3 separate regions of the Homo sapiens genome follow, and all the other regions are linked to region 1. Evidence: fine-mapped expression QTL. A gene starts in region 1. Each other region holds a variant in brackets. All regions are shown on one strand. Distances are between the middles of the regions.

What was found. PIP is the estimated chance that this variant, and not a neighbour inherited with it, causes the effect. A credible set is the group of variants that fine-mapping cannot tell apart.
Region 2: its variant is the best candidate, but not a certain one, in a credible set for the expression of CAPS2 in whole blood (INTERVAL, PIP 0.74).
Region 3: its variant is the best candidate, but not a certain one, in a credible set for the expression of CAPS2 in ileum (GTEx, PIP 0.79).

The regions. Positions count from the first base shown.
Region 1 is chr12:75,328,733-75,331,505 of GRCh38, reverse strand. It overlaps CAPS2 (calcyphosine 2), which reads left to right and starts at 1,182. Exons shown (of 17, transcript NM_001355024.4): 1 at 1,182-1,639. RefSeq lists an enhancer at 1,226-1,275.
Region 2 is chr12:75,415,991-75,418,763 of GRCh38, reverse strand. The region is part of intron 3 of GLIPR1L2 (GLIPR1 like 2); the gene reads right to left. Among named protein-coding and RNA genes, the nearest start is that of GLIPR1L2, 26 kb to the right of the region's middle. The variant T/C (reference allele first, on the strand shown) is at 1,533.
Region 3 is chr12:75,463,815-75,466,587 of GRCh38, reverse strand. No RefSeq gene overlaps it. Among named protein-coding and RNA genes, the nearest start is that of GLIPR1, 16 kb to the left of the region's middle. The variant G/A (reference allele first, on the strand shown) is at 1,673.

The DNA of each region.
Region 1 (2,773 bases):
TTCTATGTGGGGGTAATGGATAGATGAATTTTATGGAGTGCAGCAGAAAAATACAGAGTGATTACATTATACCTCATTTCCTTCACTATTTTTATACTTTAAAAATTTATTTGTATTTTTACTCCCAAATTTGCACCAGGAAATACTGGAAATATTCACGTTTTGATACATACATTCTGAGGGGAGCTAATTTTGAAAAGTTACTGCAGATTAGAAAAACATGATTATGAAAGAACTGGATTAACTTTCATAAACTCTTACTTCTAATTTGAATATCTGACTCTTGGCTGTGTAATTTAGGAAAGTTAGTGCATATTAGAGTGGAGTGGATCCTTGGAATTATCTCAAACCAGCTTTTTCCCTTTATAGATGAGGAGTTGATGCCAAGATATTGTGTACAGAGCATACATAAAAATATTTAGGCCGGGCATGGTGGCTCATGCCTGTAAATCACAGCACTCTGGGAGTCTGAGGCAGGGTATCACCTGAGGTCAGGAGTTCGAGACCAGCCTGCCCAACATGGTGAAACCCCCTCTATATAAAGATACAAAATATTAACCGGGCGTGGTGGTGGGCGCATGTAATCCCAACTACTTGGGAGGCTGGGGCAGGAGAATCGCTTGAACCTGGGAGGCAGAGGTTGCAGTGAGTCGAGATTGTGCCATTGCACTCCAGCCTGGGCAACAAGAAGGAAACTCCGTCTCAAAAAAAAAAAAAGGCAAAGAATAAAATGCAGGTTTCTTGATTTCTAGGCCTTTGCCCTTTCCACACATCATTTTAAATTTTAATTATATATACACACACAAATACACATACATATATATGCAATTATTCATGTAATCATCTATATGTACATAGTCACACAAATTTAAAGTAATATCCATGTCTAATATCTATGTATCTCTATATAATATATTACAGTCTTTAAAAAAAATAAGTGCAAGCTCCTTGAGAGCAGATATTGTAGCATATGCTTAAATTTCTTCTCCTCAAAACGTCATTCTGGGCTCTGTGCACAGACAGGTGCCTTATGAAATATGTTAAACAGAATTCAATTAGACAAAGAATTACACAACAACCGCCGTGGATCCGGGCCGGGCTTTGGCCCTTTCCCTGCTCAGGAGAAGCGCGGGTGAGTGAGTCCGCTCCGGCTCCTCGCCGGGGTTTAGGGGCGCCGCGGAGCCGGTTCCCTGGGAGGCTGCGGCGGCTGTAGCTGAGGTTTCACCCCTTTGGGTTTTCCAGCCAGCAAGTACTTCTGAGAGCGTGGCGGGGTCTCCGGCCACAAGCTCAGTTCCGGTCAGCCAGGCAGCGGAACTGAGGAGGCAGATTGGCGGGGGCGGGAGGTGGCGTAGAACGAACAAGGGACTTGGGCCGACGACCTTTTCGTCCCTGGAGGTCAGAGTGTAATCAGAAGCCCTGCGCTGCGGCGCCTGTTGCCGGGCAACCTGCAGACGCGGGCCTGGACTGTCTAGACTGTCCTGTCTAAAGCTTTCTGAATGCGGTTTTTGGAGGAATCGCGCTAGTTTATACCTTTTCCAACTCTTCTAACTCTGGACCTCTTCTTACCGAGCTTGTTAGGTGAAATCAGGCTGACTGTCTCTTGTGCCCCTCGCCTGTCCTGTCCAGGAATCCCAGTTAGGTAGGGGATGGGGAATTCCTTCTGCTACACTGCAGGTGCTCTGAATTATAATATAATTTGGGAGCAGGGGGAGTGATGGGGTGAAAGGAGATATTACCCTGTTTTGCTTGAAATTAGGAATGACCTAAGTTTCAATTCAGATATCTGGGTCTGTAGTCGTCTGGGATCAACATAGACTTGGTCCCTACCTTCATGTAGCTTAAATACTAAATTGTATTTACATCTCTTTCTTTTTTTCTTATTTATGGGCTGAATTAAATCAGTTTATTTTTTGCTTTTCATTTTTTTCTGATTTGATATAAGTAACATAATAGCCAGTAATATTACTACCGAGAGAAGTGATAATAATTGGAAGTGGAAATAGTCATCCTTAAAAAAAAATGAGGGAAATGGGAAGTGTGTTCAGTTATTTTTGGTAGCACTAAAGACATTAGCCAACAGTATTTATTATATGCTAGCAATATCATCTCATGACATGCAGCCATTTAAGTGGGGACAGAAGCCATTTAGAAGTGCTTTCCCTTCCTTTTGCTACTCCCTATCTCCAACATAGCCCAGCTGGATATTCAGTGCTTAATGACAAAGACAACCCTTGGCATAGGTTTCAAAGATTCACTCACAGCCAGTTGTTTGCTGATTCTTGTGCCACCAAGTTTAGGTTTCTAATTTTTTAGTCCCTACAGCTCATTCCCCTCGAATTCTTCTATTACCTTTACCAGTGAGGATGTAGTACTGAAAAGAGATCTGAAACCCACGTGTGAATTCGGGTCTGCAATAACTGGCAAACATTTAGCGAAGTACAGTTCACTTTTCTGGATCTCAGCTGGCTCGGTTTGAAGATCAGAAGGTTGAGCTGTTTTTGTCTTTGAAGCCCTGTCAAAATCTTAAAATTATCTACATAGGGTGTCAGTTGCCTGACTGCTCTAATTCCATAGATCCGAAAGTGTTCCATGTATGACGGCATTGCCCTTTGAATACTCTTACTATATCTAAGTTAACCACTTTTGTGTTTTGTCATTCCGAATTGACTGACTTCACTTATTTAACAAACATTTGTTAAGTTCCTACTACATTGTGGGCTTTCTAAATCCTGAGACATAGGGTGAGCAAATATGAGGCTTACAGTCTAGCATT
Region 2 (2,773 bases), 87 kb before region 1:
AAGCAATTTATAGATTCAATGCTATCCCCATCAAGCTACTACTGACTTTCTTCACAGAACTGGAAAAAACTACTTTAAATTTCATATGGAACTAAAAAGAGCCCGAATAGCCAAGACAATCCTAAGCAAAAAGAACAAAGCTGGAGGCATCACGTTACCCGACTTCAAACTATTACTACAATGGGACAGAACAGAGGCCTCAGGAATAACGCCACATATCTACAACCATCTGATATTTGAAAAACCTGACATAAACAAGCAATGGGGAAAGGATTCTCTATTTAATAAATAATTTTTTCTATACTCAGATTCATACATGTGTTCCTTTATAGTTTCTGGACTTTAATGTTCTGATAGGTAAGTCCTTATACCTTCCAAATTGTAAGTAAATTCACTAATATAGCTTTCATGACTTCACTTTTTAATGTTTAAGTCTTTTATGTATTAGAAATTTAATCCTCTAAGATGAGTGAAAAACTCAGTTTTACTTTTATCCAGCCAGTAGGCTCTCCTAATTCCATTACTTAAATACTTTAACCAGTGATTTTAAACGCCAACTTTATCACAATCATTACATATGGATTTGGATCTACTTATTGACCCTCATCTATATAACACAATAAGCGGAAATATTTATAAATTACATTACATAAAATGTAATGTGCAATGTCTTTGGCACACTTACAACAAAATTATATTTAACTAAATGAAAGGTCTTGTAGTCAACTGCAGATCCAACATGCCTAAAAATAAAAGTTATTTTCCCTCCACTCTATATATTTTCCTAGGTCAGTTAATAACATTACCTATCAATGAAGCATAAATTCTTATGGTCATCCTTGTGTCCTTTCTAATATTTAAGTTTTAGAGTAATCGAATTAATATTGTTTTATTTTACTTTTTAAAATTGTACTTAAAATGTGTGAGTTTTTATCTTTGAAAATGAAAAATAAGGACTAGTAAATAATTATATGTAATATAGTTTCAGTTTTTTTCTGATACATTATAAAGTATTCTAATCTTTATACAGATATCTTTGTAGATTAGGAACATTTTCTTTTCTTTATTATTTCTCTTTCCTTGGCTCTTCTCTATTCTTTAGAAACACCAATTTGTAGATTTATATGCCATACATATTTCCTTTATTTTTTCATATATATTTTGACCTCTATTCTTCACCTTTGTGTTTCTGAGAAAAATTTTCAAGGTTGCTTTGACTTGTTATTTTCAGTATGCATGGCCAAGTCTGTTTTATTCTTCCATTCTGCATTAATTTTCTGTAACTATATTAACAAATTACCACAAATTCGGTGGCTAAAACAACATTAATTTATTCTCTCACTGTTCTGGAGGCCCAAAGTCCAAAATCAAGGTGTTGGCAGGGCTGTGTTCCCTTCAAAGGCTCTTAAGAATCTGTTCCTTGATTTTTCCAGCTTCTGGTGGCCTTAGCTCCTTGGCTTGTGGATGCATCACTGTAGCTGCTTCTGCTGTGGTCACACTGCCTCCTCTTCTGTGTGTCTTATGCTGAATCC[T/C]CCTCTCCATCTCTTACAAGTATACATGTGATTGCATTTAGCCCTCACCCAAATAATCTAGAATAAGCTCCTCTCAAGATCCTTATATTAACCACATCTTTGCCATATTAGGTAATATTCACACTTTTGCCATTTAAGTAATATTGACAGGTTCTGGAAATTAGGACCTAAACATAACGTTGGTAGGGGGGGCACCATTCATCCCACTATACCTTTTAATTTTCAATTTTGTTATTTTACATTCATTTCTACCCAGTATTTTATAATATTGTAATGGATTGATTTTTCTACCAACTATCCTTAAGAGAGATAATGTGATTGCCTATTTTAGGTACATAATCAAATAAGAATTGGACTGAGTTGACTGATAACTGTTCCAATCTAGATCCTTCAAGGTAGACTTGCCAATATTTGTATCAAAGGAAAAATGGTTAACAAATTTCAAGACAAAGAAGCTTGTGCAATAAGAGAGTAGCAAGAAAAAAAGGGTAATTTCAACAACTGGTAGCTTCATCTTATCACTGTAGTCATCTGAGACCCCTGTACTCACTATTCTTATTAAGGTCACCAAATACCTTCATCTCATCTAATGGAACTGTCAGTTCTCCTTCCTCAATTTCTCATTCTCTCAGCAGCGTCTCATAGAGTTAACCAGTTTGGGCTTCTTAGCTCATGTTCTTCACTTGACTTCCAAGTACCTTACCAGCAGGTTTTTGGTTTCCCTCATACCTCATTAACCTCTCTTCATTCTCCTTTACTAGCTCTTTTGCCTTAGTTTAAAATAGCGTAGTGCCCCAGGACTTAGTTCTTAAATTGTCTCCATATTCACTCTCCCACATGCTGATCTAATTCACTGTGACTTCCACTTCAGGGCCTTTATACCAGAAGCTTCGTCTACTTAGAAAACAACCACATACTTTCATATGGCTATCTGCTTCTCATGATTCATTCACATTTCCTACATTTATTTTTCTATCTAATATACCCAAATAGAAAACATATCTTTTGATCTTCTCTAAGTTAATGAAATCACCATCCACCCAGTTTTTTAGACTAAACACATAGGCATAGTGTTGCTTGATTATTTTATTCAATTTATCCCTAAACTCAAGCCAATCGGCTTGTATTATTAGCTCCACCTTCATAATATACCCAGAAACTGACCTTTCCTCACCATTTCCATTCTATGGTAGGCAGAATTCTAAGATGAATCACAAGATCCTCCACTCCTCAGGTACATG
Region 3 (2,773 bases), 140 kb before region 1:
CCCGTGCCTCCTGACTGGGAGACACCTCCCAACAGGGGTTGACAGACATTTCATACAGGAGAGCTCTGGCTGGCATCAGGCTGGTACCCCACTGGGACAAAGCTTCCAGGTGAAAGAGCAGGCAGCAATCTTTGCTGTTCTGCAGCCTCCACTGGTGATACCCACACGGATAGGGTCTGGAGTGGACCTCCAGCAAAGTGCAGCAGACATGAAGAAGAGGGGCCTGACTGTTAGAAGAAAAGCTAACAAACAGAAAGCAATAACATCAATATCAATAAAAAAGACCCCCACACAGAAACCCCAACCAAAGATCATCATCCTCAAAGATCAAAGGTAGATAAATCCACGAAGATGAGGAAAAACCAGTGAAAAATGCTGAAAATTCCAAAAATCAGAATGCCTCTTCTCATCCAAATGATCGCAACTCCTCTCCAGCAAGGGCACAAAACTGGATGGAGAATGAGATTGATGAATTGAAAGAAGTAGGCTTCAGAAGGTGGGTAATAACAAACTCCTCTGAGCTAAAGAAGCATGTTCTAACCCAATGCAAGGAAGCTAAGAACCTTGATAAAAAGTTACAGGAACTGCTAACTAGAATAACCAGTTTAGAGAGGAACATAAATGACCTGATGGAGCTGAAAAACACAGCATGAGAACTTCATGAAGCATACACAAGTATCAATAGTTGAATTGATCAAGCGGAAGAAAGGCTATTAGAGATTGAAGATCACCTTACTGAAATAAGGCATGAAGACAAGATTAGACAAAAAAGAATGAAAAGAAATGAACAAAGCCGCCAAGAAATATGGGACTACGTGAAAAGACCAAACCTACAATTGACTGGTGTACTGGAAAGTGACGGGGAGCATGGAAGCAAGTTGGAAAACACACTTCAGGATATTATCCAGGAGAACGTCCCCAGCCTAGCAAGACAGACCAACACTCAAATTCAGGAAATACAGAACACACGACTAAGATACTCTTCGAGAAGAGCAACCCCAACACACATAATCATCAGATTCTCCAAGTTTGAAATGAAGAGAAAAATGTTAAGGGCAGCCAGAGAGAAAGGTCAGGTCACCTACAAAGGGAAGCCCATCAGACTAACAGTGGATTTCTCTGCAGAAGCCCTACAAGCCAGAAAAGAGTGGGGCCAATATTCAACATTCTTAAAGAAAAGAATTTTCAACCCAGAATTTCATATCCAGCCAAACTAAGCTTTATAAATGAAGGAGAAATAAAATCCTTTCCAGACAGGCAAATGCTATGGGATTTTGTCACCACCAGGCCTGCCATACAAGAGCTCCTGAAGGAAGCACTAAATATGGAAAGAAAAAACCAGTACCACCCACTGCAAAAACATACCAAAATATAAAGGATCAATGACACTGTGAAGAAACTGCATCAACTAATGAGCAAAATAATCAGCTAGCATCATAATGACAGGATCAAATTCACACATAATATTAACCTTAAATGTAAATGGGCTAAATGCCTCAACTAAAAGACAAAGACTGAGAAATTGGATAACGAGTCAAGACCCATCAGTGTGCTGTATTCAGGAGACACATCTCACATGCAAAGACACACACAGGCCCAAAATAAAGGGATGGAGGAATATTTACCAAGCAAATGGAAAACAGAACAAAGCAGGGTTGCAATCCTAGTCTCT[G/A]ATAATACAGACTTTAAACCAAGAAAGATAAAAAAAAGACAAGGGATTACATAATGGAAAAGGGATCAATGCAACAAGAAGAGCTAACTATGCTAAATGTATATGCACCCAACAAGGAGCACCCAGATTCATAAAACAAGTTCTTAGAGACCTACAAAAAGATAGACTCCCACAAAATAATAGTGGGAGACTTTAACACCCCGCTGTCAATATTACACAGATCAACGAGACAGAAAATTAACAAAGATACCCAGAAGGTGAACTCAGCTCTGGATCAAGTGGACCTGATAGATATCTGCAGGACTCTCCACCCCAAAACAACAGAATATACATTCTTCTCAGTGCCACATGGCACCTACTCTGAAATTGACCACATAACTGGAAGTAAAACACCCCTCAGCAAACACAAAAGAACGGAAATCATAACAGTCTCTCAGACCACAGTGCAATCAAATTAGAACTCAGAATTAATAAACTCACTAAAAACTACACAACTACATGGAAATTGAACAACCTGCTCCTGAATGATAACTTGGTAAATAATGAAATTAAGGCAGAAATAATGAAGTTATTTGAAACCAATGAATACAAAGAGACAACATACCAGAATCTATGGGACACAGCTAAAGCAGTGTTAAGAGGGAAATTCATAGCACTAAATGTCCACATCAGAAAGCTGAAAAGATCTGAAATCAACACCCTCACATCACAATCAAAAGAACTAAAGAAGCAAGAGCAAACAAATTCAAAAGCTAGCAGAAGACAAGAAATAACTAAGATCAGAGCAGAACTGAAGGAGATAGAGACACGAAAACCCATCAAAAAGCAGTAAATCCAGGAGCTGTTTTTATGCAAATATTAACAAAATAGATAGACTGCTAGCTAGACTAATGAAGGTAAGAGAGAAGAATCAAATAGACACAATAAAAAATGACAAAGGGAATATCACCACTGATCCTACAGAAATACAAACTACCATTGGAGTGTACTATAAAGACCTCTACACAAATAAACTAGAAAATCTAGAAGAAACTGATAAATTCCTGGACACATACACCCTCCCAAGACGAAACCAGGAAGAAGTCGAATCCCTGAATAGAC